Homo sapiens: one gene and its partner. The protein of the gene in region 1 purifies or fractionates together with the protein of each later gene. This does not show direct contact. Each region holds a gene or a part of one and is shown on either strand. Other genes may lie near its edges.

The links. The genes of interacting proteins can lie anywhere in the genome.
Region 2: the proteins of SH2B3 (region 1) and HAVCR2 purify together in Homo sapiens (pull-down; one study listed by IntAct). This does not show direct contact.

The regions. Positions count from the first base shown.
Region 1 is NC_000012.12:111,419,418-111,424,769, forward strand, and holds part of SH2B3 (SH2B adapter protein 3), read left to right. Parts: intron 1-991; exon of another isoform or gene 992-1,071; intron 1,072-5,352. UniProt on the Homo sapiens protein: Links T-cell receptor activation signal to phospholipase C-gamma-1, GRB2 and phosphatidylinositol 3-kinase.
Region 2 is NC_000005.10:157,102,545-157,106,970, reverse strand, and holds part of HAVCR2 (hepatitis A virus cellular receptor 2 precursor), read left to right. Parts: intron 1-8; coding exon 9-344; intron 345-2,221; coding exon 2,222-2,305; intron 2,306-4,426. UniProt on the Homo sapiens protein: Cell surface receptor implicated in modulating innate and adaptive immune responses. Generally accepted to have an inhibiting function.

The sequences.
Region 1 (5,352 bases):
TTTGAGGCCAGGGGTTCAAGACCAGTCTGGCCAACATAGTGAAACCCTGTCTCTACTAAAAATATAAAAAATTAGCTGAGCACAGTGGCGCACGCCTGTAATCCCGGCTACTTGGGAGGCTGAGTCAGGAGAATCACTTGAACCTGGGAGGGAAAGTTACAGTGAACTAAGATTGCACCACTGTATTCCAGCCTTGGTGACAGAGTGAGACTCTGTCTCAAAAAAAAAAAAAATGTTTAGACTTACAGGAAAGTTGCAAAGATAGTAGTGTTCCTTTACACATGGTACCCAGCTTCACCGAAGGTTCACATCTTACGCTGCTGTGTACATTGGTTGTAGCTAAGGAACCAGCACGGGTACATCACTATTAGCTAAACGCCACTGTTCCTTTGGCTTTGCCAGTTTTCCTCTAATGTCCCTTTTCTGTTCCAGCTCGCCCCCCAGGATACCACATGAGGTTTAGTCGTTACGTCTCCTTAGGCGCCTCTTGGCTGTAACAGTTTCCAACCCTCTATTGCTGATAGCCTTGGCAGTTTTGAGGAGTACCAGTCAAGGATTTTGTACAATGTCCAGGGACACCTTTTTGCCTTCACATTTGGGTGTCATGTGGGCTGGTAGCAGGTCACTCTGAGATCCTTGAAAACTCTGACTCAGACTGGCATTGACAGATTGGTGTTTTATTTCCAGAGGGCTCAAAACCTTCAGAGAATTTCTCTGCACCTCCTGTGCCTTGGTGATATTTTGCAAGTTAAAAAGAATTTGTCCTTTGGCAAAACCCCATTGCTACAAAAAATACCAAAATTAGCTGGGCGTGGTGGTGTACGCCTGTGGTCCCAGCTACTCTGGAGGCTATGGTGGGAAGATCGCTTGAGCCCAGAAGACCAAGGCTGCAGTAAGCCAAGATCGCACCACAGCACTACAGCCTGGGTGACAGAGCGAGACCCTGTCTCAAAAAAAAAAAAAAAAAAAAAAAAGTTCTTTTCCTTCACAGCTGGCTTAATTCCTACTGTGCTGTTGAGGCTGAAAGGTCACTGTGTTCTACTCACCTGCCAGGCTCCATCTTTGACTCAGGTATGCATGACAGGACCATATGGCTTTCATCTAATTGCTCTCTCTTTGGGATCCTGTTACGTGGTAGGGCCTTACTCTAGAGCATGAGCAAAACCGATGTGATACTGGCCCTGAGGGGCTCACGATGTGGGTGGAGGAAACCTATGGTTACTCTTTCATTCATTCGACAGATATTTATGGAGCACCTACTATGTGTTAGGCACATGCTAGGTTCTGGGGGACCAGGCGGGCCTAGTGGAGGCTGTTGAGGAAATAAACCCACAGATGAGCATGGAATTAAAAATGGTAAATTGTGTTCTAAAACTGGTAAACTGTGTTCTAAAGGAAAAGCAATGGGGTCTCTGGGAGGATAACTGAGGGGTCCCGGTTTGGCGGTTTGGGAGAGTCATCCAAGAATCCTTTGAAGTAACGTTTTCAAACTGACTGTGGCGTAACATGCAGACCTGGAAGTGCGTGAAGTATGAGACACATCTGAAGCTCTGTGTTTCCGTGTGTGTGCAACGCAAGTGACCAGCACCCCAGAGGGCTCCTTCATGCCTCCCCCAGGCCAGTGCCCTGTACCCCCATACATACCACCTCTTATCACCACAGGTTCGATTTCTCTGTTCTTGAACATCATGTGAATGGAATCACACAGTAGGTTGCCTTTGTTTTATTTTATTATTTTATTTTGAGACAGGGTCTCACTGTGTCACCTAGGCTGGAGTGCAGTGGTGTGATCATGGCTCGCTGTAGCCTCAACCTCCCAGCCTCAGGTTATTTTTGTGCCTCAGCCTCCCCAGTAGCTGGGATCACCGTCACGTGCCACCACTCCCAGCTAATAAATAGGTTGCCTTTTATTTCTGGCTCCTTTTGCCCAGCATAATGTTTTAGAGATTGATCACATTGATCGTACATGTCAATAGTGTCTTCCTTTTTTTTTTTTTTTTTTTTTTTTTTGAGACAAGGTCTCGCTCTGTCACCCAGCTGGAGTGCAGTGGCTCGATCTCAGCTTACTGCATCCTCTGCCTCTTGTCCTCCTGGGCTCAAGCAGTCCTCCCACCTCAGCCTCCCGAGTAACTGGGACCACAGGCACGTGCCACCACACCTGGCTAATTTTTGTATTTTTTGTGGAGATGGGATTTCACCATGTTGTCAAGGCTGGTCTCGAACTCCTGGGCTCAAATGGTCCCCCCACTTCGGCCTCCCAAAGTGCTATGATTACTGGCATGAGCCACCACGCCCAGCCGGGTTTGTTTCTTTTGAGTACTGAATAGATTCCATTGCACAGCTGTCTCCATGTCCCACAACTGGTTTATCCCATCCTCTGTTGATGAATATTTGGGTTGTTTCTATTTTGATTTATGAATAAGGCTGTTATGAAGTTTGCATCTAAGTCTAAATATGGACACACATCCTTTCATTTCTCTCAGGTGGATTCCTAGAAGTGGCATTGCTCAGTCATAGAGTAGGTACATGTTTACTTTAGAGAAATTGCCAGACTTTTCCCAAAGCAGCTGCACCATTTTGTGTCCCACCGGCAGTGGGCGAGAGTTCCGGGTGGTTCCACTTCCCCACCAACACTTGAGCACTTGGTGGGTTTTTTTGTGTTTTGTTTTGTTTTTGTTTTGAGACGGAGTCTCGCTCTGTTGCCCAGGCTGGAGTGCAGAGGCACAATCTCGGCTCACTGCAACCTCCGTCTCCTGGGTTCAAGCTGATTCTCCTGCCTTAGCCTCCCAAATAGCTGGGATTATAGGCGCGTGCCACCACACCCAGCTGATTTTTGTATTTTTAGTAGAAATGGGGTTTCACCATGTTAGCCAGGCACTTGGTGTTAAGAGTCACCGGTGGCTGCGTTCCTGGATCTCAAGGTGGCTTTACTTTGCGTTTCCCTGATGACTCATGGAGGTTAAGCACCTTTTCATATGTTGATTGGTCATCGGAATTTGGTCGTTTGTGAAGTACATGTTTTTATTGTCTGTCTAGCCTTTTTTAAATTGATTTGTAAAAGTCGTTATATATTTTGGACAATTTCTTTGCGTTTTAAAAGTCATTTCCTACCTTTATGGCCTGGCTTTTCATGAAAAGCAGTTTTGTTTTTTTTTTTTCTTGAGATGGAGTCTCACTCTGTTGCCCAGGCTGGAGTGCAGTGGCGCAATCTCGGCTCACTGCAACCTCTGCCTCCTGGGTTCAAGTGATTCTCCTGCCTCAGCCTCCCGAGTAGCTGGGATTACAGGCGCATGCTACCACGCCTGGCTAATTTTTTGTATTTTTAGTAGAGATGGGTTTTCGCCATGTTGGCCAGGCTGGTCTTGAACTCCTGACCTCGTGATCCACCTGCCTCAGCCTCCCAAAGTACTGGGATTACAGGCGTGAGCTACCTCACCTGGCCTCAATTTTTGTATTTTTAGTAGAGATGGGGTTTCACCATGTTGGCCAGGCTGGTCTTGAACTCCTGACCTCAGGTGATCTGTCCGCCTCGGCCTCCCAAAGTGCTGGGATTACAGGTGCGAGCCACCACGCCTGGCCAGGAGGTCACTTACTTTCATTCTAAGTAAATCACTGGGCCTTCCAGGCAGAGGGAACAGCATGGGCAGAGACCCTGAGTGGGGAATGTGTTTAGCATGTTTTGAAGAAAGGACAAGATGAAGAGGCCGGTGTGGTGGGAGCAGAGAGAGGGAGATGGGGAGCGGGGAAGTACATGTGGGTGGAGGACACTGGGAACGGGAGGACTTAGTGTTTTATTCCAAGCACAATCAGAAGCTGTTGGGAAAACGCAAGCACAGATAAAAAACGGTTTTCTCATCATTTGTTAAAAATCTCAAGGCTGTGACACCATGAAAGACAAATAACGGCCCCAATACATGATCTTATCTGTGTGACACTGTAGGGTTTTTATTTTTTTATTTTTTATTTTTTTGAGACAGAGTCTTGCTCTGTTGCCCAGGCTGGAGTGCAGTGGCACGGTGTCAGCTCACTGCCAGCTCCGCCTCCCGGGTTCATGCCATTCTCCTGCCTCAGCCTCCCGGGTAGCTGGGACTACAGGTGCCCGCCACCACACCTGGCTAATTTTTTTGTATTTTTAGTAGAGATGGGGTTTCACCGTGTTAGCCCGGATGGTTTCGATCTCCTGACCTCGTTATCTGCCCGCCTCAGCCTCCCAAAGTGCCGGGATTACAGGCGTGAGCCACTGCGCCCGTCCAGGGTTCTTAACTTTGAAAAACAACCTCAGTGGCTGGGCGCAGTGGCTCATGCCAGTAATCCCAGCACTTAGGGAGACCAAGGCAGATTACCTGAGATTGGGAGTTCGAGACCAGCCTGGCCAACATGGTGAAACCCCATCTCTACTAAAAAATATCTTGGTGGCCAAGCGTGTGGCTCATGCCTATAATCCCAGCACTTTGGGAGGCTGAGGCAGGTGGATCACCTGAGGTCAGGAGCTCGAGACCAGCCTGACCAACATGGTGAAACCCCGTCTCTACTGAAAATACAAAATCAGCCTGGTGTGGTGGCACATGCCTGTAATCCCAGCTACTACGGAGGCTGAGGCAGGAGAATCACTTGAACCCAGGAGGCGGAGGTTGCAGTGAGCTGAGATCGTGCTACTGCACTCTAGCCTGGGTGACAAGAGCGAAACTCCATCTCAAAAAAAATAAGTGAATATATAAAAAATAAAAATAATCTTGGAAGACCAGGTGTTGGGAGCCAGCTGGCCCTGGGTTTGAATAATGAATAAGCTGCTTTCTCAGCTCTGGGGCAAGTGGTATCACCTTTCTGAGACTCAGTTTCCCCCTCTGTACATTGGGGAGTACTCATAGTTCCTACCCCATAGGGCTGTGTGTCTTGGTGGGGAGAGCGCATGTGCCACGTGCCTGGCGCTGGGAGCACTCCATGAGTGCTGTGTTGCTGTTGCCACGGTTGTTGTGGTTTGTTATGGTTTTGACTTCGGGCGGAGAGCCCAGGTTTATTTCCAGTGCTTGCTGGGCCCTCAGGGGAAGGCATCCCCAAGACTCCTGTTCTCTGGGAGCCCTGATGGTAGGGCCCCATCAGATTCCCTAGGGCTTTTCCCAATCCAGGGAACCAGGGAGGTCCCAGAGGGCTTTGCCGTAGCCCTGGCTGGCTGGGGCTCTGTCACAGGCTTGGTGGTTGCTGCGGGGCCTGGGGTGTTGCCTGCAAAGCAAGCAGCCCTGGGGAGGCTTCTCCTAGCCCCTCGGAGCATCAGGTGGAACAGTCCGGGCGGCTCAGGAGCATCCCCTCAGTGAATCTGTGTCCAGGTGATGGGCCAAGGGTGCTCAGACCACA
Region 2 (4,426 bases), on another chromosome or scaffold:
CTATGCAGGGTCCTCAGAAGTGGAATACAGAGCGGAGGTCGGTCAGAATGCCTATCTGCCCTGCTTCTACACCCCAGCCGCCCCAGGGAACCTCGTGCCCGTCTGCTGGGGCAAAGGAGCCTGTCCTGTGTTTGAATGTGGCAACGTGGTGCTCAGGACTGATGAAAGGGATGTGAATTATTGGACATCCAGATACTGGCTAAATGGGGATTTCCGCAAAGGAGATGTGTCCCTGACCATAGAGAATGTGACTCTAGCAGACAGTGGGATCTACTGCTGCCGGATCCAAATCCCAGGCATAATGAATGATGAAAAATTTAACCTGAAGTTGGTCATCAAACCAGGTGAGTGGACATTTGCATGCCATCTTTATGAATAAGATTTATCTGTGGATCATATTAAAGGTACTGATTGTTCTCATCTCTGACTTCCCTAATTATAGCCCTGGAGGAGGGCCACTAAGACCTAAAGTTTAACAGGCCCCATTGGTGATGCTCAGTGATATTTAACACCTTCTCTCTGTTTTAAAACTCATGGGTGTGCCTGGGCGTGGTGGCTCACACCTCTAATCCCAGCACTTTGGGAGGCTGAGGCCGGTGGATCATGAGGTCAGGAATTCGAGACCAGCCTGGCCAACATAGTAAAACCTTGTCTCCACTAAAAATACAAAAAATTAGCCAGGCATGGTTACGGGAGCCTGTAATTCTAGCTACTTGGGGGGCTGAAGCAGGAGAATCACTTGAACCTGGGAGTCGGAGGTTGTGGTAAGCCAAGATCTCGCCATTGTACTCCAGCCTGGCTGACAAGGGTGAAACTCTGTCTCAAAAAAAAAAAAAGAAAAGAAAAGAAAAGCCAAAACTCATGGGTGGAATGTATAGATGGGATGAAAGGCCTAGATCAGTGGTTAGAGACCCTGACTCTCATTAGAATCACATAGAGAGTTTTTAAACAACTATAGATGCCAGGTACAGTGGCTCATGCCTATAATCCCAATACTTTGAGAGGCTGAAGCAGGAGGATCACTTGAGGTCAGGAGTTTGAGACCAGCCTGGCTGATATACTGTGGCTACCCCTATCTCTTAAAAAGCAGAAGAAAAAACCCCACTACCAAAAACCAGAGAAATCAGCATCTCTGGAGGTAGATGCTAAGCATTAGCTTTTTACAGAGTCTACCTCAGGTGATTTTACCCCAGGTGCAGCCAGCATGGTGAACTGCTGGGTTATGCATGTATGCTGGGAGGTGAACAGACTTAAGATTTCTATAACATGTACTTTGTGCCCAGATAGAGCTGAGTTTACATCTAACTCTGCCTCTTACTAGCTATATAATCCTGAGCAAGTTATTGAAACGCTGTGAGCTCCTCTTCTATAAAATATGACAATAATACCGATCATGTGGGCCATTAGAAGGATTTTATGTGATAATATTTTATTAAAAGCCTTTATAGGTTGGGCATCCCAAATCTGAAAATCTAAAACCTAAAATGCACCAAAATCTGAAATGCTCTAAAATCCAAAACTTTTTGGACACTGACATGACATTCAAAGGAAAAGCTCATTGGAACATAAGTATAGGCAGATACTAAAAAATAAAAAAATAAAAACATGGCTGGGCGTGGTGGCTCATGCCTATAATCCCAGCACTTTGGGAGGCTGAGGTGGGTGGATCACCTGAGGTCGGGAGTTCGAGACCAGTCTGACCAACATGGAGAAACCCTGTCTCTACTAAAAATACAAAATTAGCCAGGTGTGGTTGCACATGCCTGTAGTCCCAGCTACTCAGGAGTCTGAGGCAGGAGAATTGCTTGAACCCAGGAGGCGGAGGTTGCAGTGAGCCGAGATTATGCCATTGCACTCCAGCCTGGGCAACAAGAGCAAAACTCCGTTTCAAAAAAAAAAAAAAAATTCAAAATCTAAAACATTTCTGATCTCAAGCATTTCAGATAAGGAGTCTTCAACCTGTAATTATGGCCATTTGTGTGGCTGTTAGTTCCGCTATTAATAATCAGAATGTAACAATGATGACTGCATCTTACCTTTGTCAAACATTTGAAGTGTGTGATACACTCTCAACGTAGGTATCCAGGCAGGTTTGGAAGCTGAGGGTGTATTTCTCTTTCTTAATTGTCTTTCGCATTTTTTTCTTGCTGCCCCTTTGATTCCCTGAAATAAGCTTTCTGCTCTCAGATAATTTTCATCCTTATGTTGTTTCTGACATTAGCCAAGGTCACCCCTGCACCGACTCGGCAGAGAGACTTCACTGCAGCCTTTCCAAGGATGCTTACCACCAGGGGACATGGCCCAGGTAACTATGCATGGGGCAGAGGAGGGAATCTTTAGCTGGCTCTGAATTCAGAGGATTTTGAATGTGGGAAAAAAAGATGAGAAAACAGTGTGAGAGTGGAGGCATGGATATCTCCGTGCACCTGAAATAGTGTTTGAAAAGAGGGAAGTGGTGGAGACACACCTGTGCTGGGAAAAAGATGGTCTGGCTTAGGATTATTTTACTTAAATTTTAACTGGAAAAAAGTTAATAAACTTTATAGTCTTTAATTTTACTTAAATATTAACTAAATTGAATGAAATGCTCATTACTTTGTCCACATTTTCTGACTGACCCTGGACTGGTGATGTTTGGTCATGAACTGGTGTCAGTCTGTGTTTGGGAACTGACACATTGGATTAGGTGATTTCTAGGATGCCTTCTAGCTAGAATAAAGCCCATCACCTTCCCTGGATTCCAGCCACAGAAAGAATAGTTAAATTCTTCATGTAATTCAGCAAGGACGTACTCAGGGTGCTCCAGAAGAGAACACTGGGCATAAAGCAGAAGTCAAGTCACATTGATCATGAAGGTTAATTTTAAGGTATTTCTTGTCAGTGTCCTGGTCTCTTCTAAACTCTCTGGAGCTCCATTTTTTTTTTCTTCTGTAAAATGAGGTTAATAGGTGAGTCCCACCTCATAATGTCATAAATCTCATAAATCACACCTTATGGGCTTTAAATAAGAAAATGTCTAAAACGTTTATCCCAATGTCTGACCACAATTTGTACATGTTAGCTGTTGTCGTTAATATTATAAGATCAGGAGGCACAGTGAGATTGTGGTTAAAGTACTTCAGTGACAGGTGGAATGGGTTCTAATTTCAGCTGTTCTTGATAGCTCTGTGACCTCAGTCAAGTTGCTCAAATTCTCTGAAGCTCAGTTTGCTCATCTCTACAATGAGGATAATTCCAGTGCCCATGTCATGAGGTGGTTGTAATGTATAAACATGATAATGTATGTAAAATGCTCAGCATAGTACCTGGCCCATAAAAAGCACTCAACTGTTTATTATTACTATAGTTACTGGTTTTAGCTCTCCAAAGTTTCAGTCTTTGGTTAGTCTTTAGTGATTGGTAGCCAACATCTTTTATGCAATTAGAGAGGAAACTAAATATGGTGGGGACAGAAAATAATAAAGTTATACCAGATACTTATTGTATGCCATTGTTATATTTTAAAGAATCTTACAACCATAGTGCTAGAAGGGACTTCAAGGGTCATTTAGTCTCACTTTCCCATCCTGTGCTTCAGTACTTTTTTTTTTTTTTTTAATTGAGACGGAGTCTTGCTCTGTCACCCAGACTAGAGTGCAGTGGCGCAATCTCGGCTCACTGCAAGTTCCGCCTCCTGGGTTCACGCCATTCTCCTGCCTCAGCCTCCCAAGTAGCTGGGACTACAGGCGCCCACCATCAAGCCCAGCTAATTTTTTTCTTTTTTGTATTTTTAGTAGAGACAGAGTTTCACCGTGTTAGCCAGGATGGTCTCCATCTCCTGACCTTGTGATCCTCCCGCCTCGGCCTCCCAAAGTGCTGGGATTACACGCGTGAGCCACCGCGCCCGGCCAGTACTTTTTACTACATCACCACTGAATGGGCATTTGCTGTAGACGGAGTTCACTCCCTGTCGAGGTGGTGCATTTCCTTATACTTGTCTCTACCACAGACAGAAGTCTTCTTTCCTTTAGTTTTTCTTTCCTTTTTTTTTTTTTTTGAGACGGAGTCTCACTCTCTCACCCAGGCTGGAGTGCAATGACACGATCTTGGCTCACTGCAAACTCTGCCTCCCAGGTTCATGCCATTCTCCTGCCTCAGCCTCCCAAGTAGCTGGGATTACAGACGCGCGCCACCACGCCCCGCTAATTTTTGTATTTTTATTAGAGACGGGGTTTCACCATGGTGGCCATGCTGGTCTCGAACTCCTAACCTCAGGTGATCCCTCTGCCTCGGCCTCCCAAAGCGCTGGGATTACAGGTGTAAGCCACCACGCCCAGCCTTCCCTTTAGTTTTTGTTTGTTAGTTCCTTCCCTCTAGGGCAACAAAAATGGGAATATAGGAATAATACCTCGAACCTCTGAGCTTCTCAAGGGCCTGACTGAGAAAA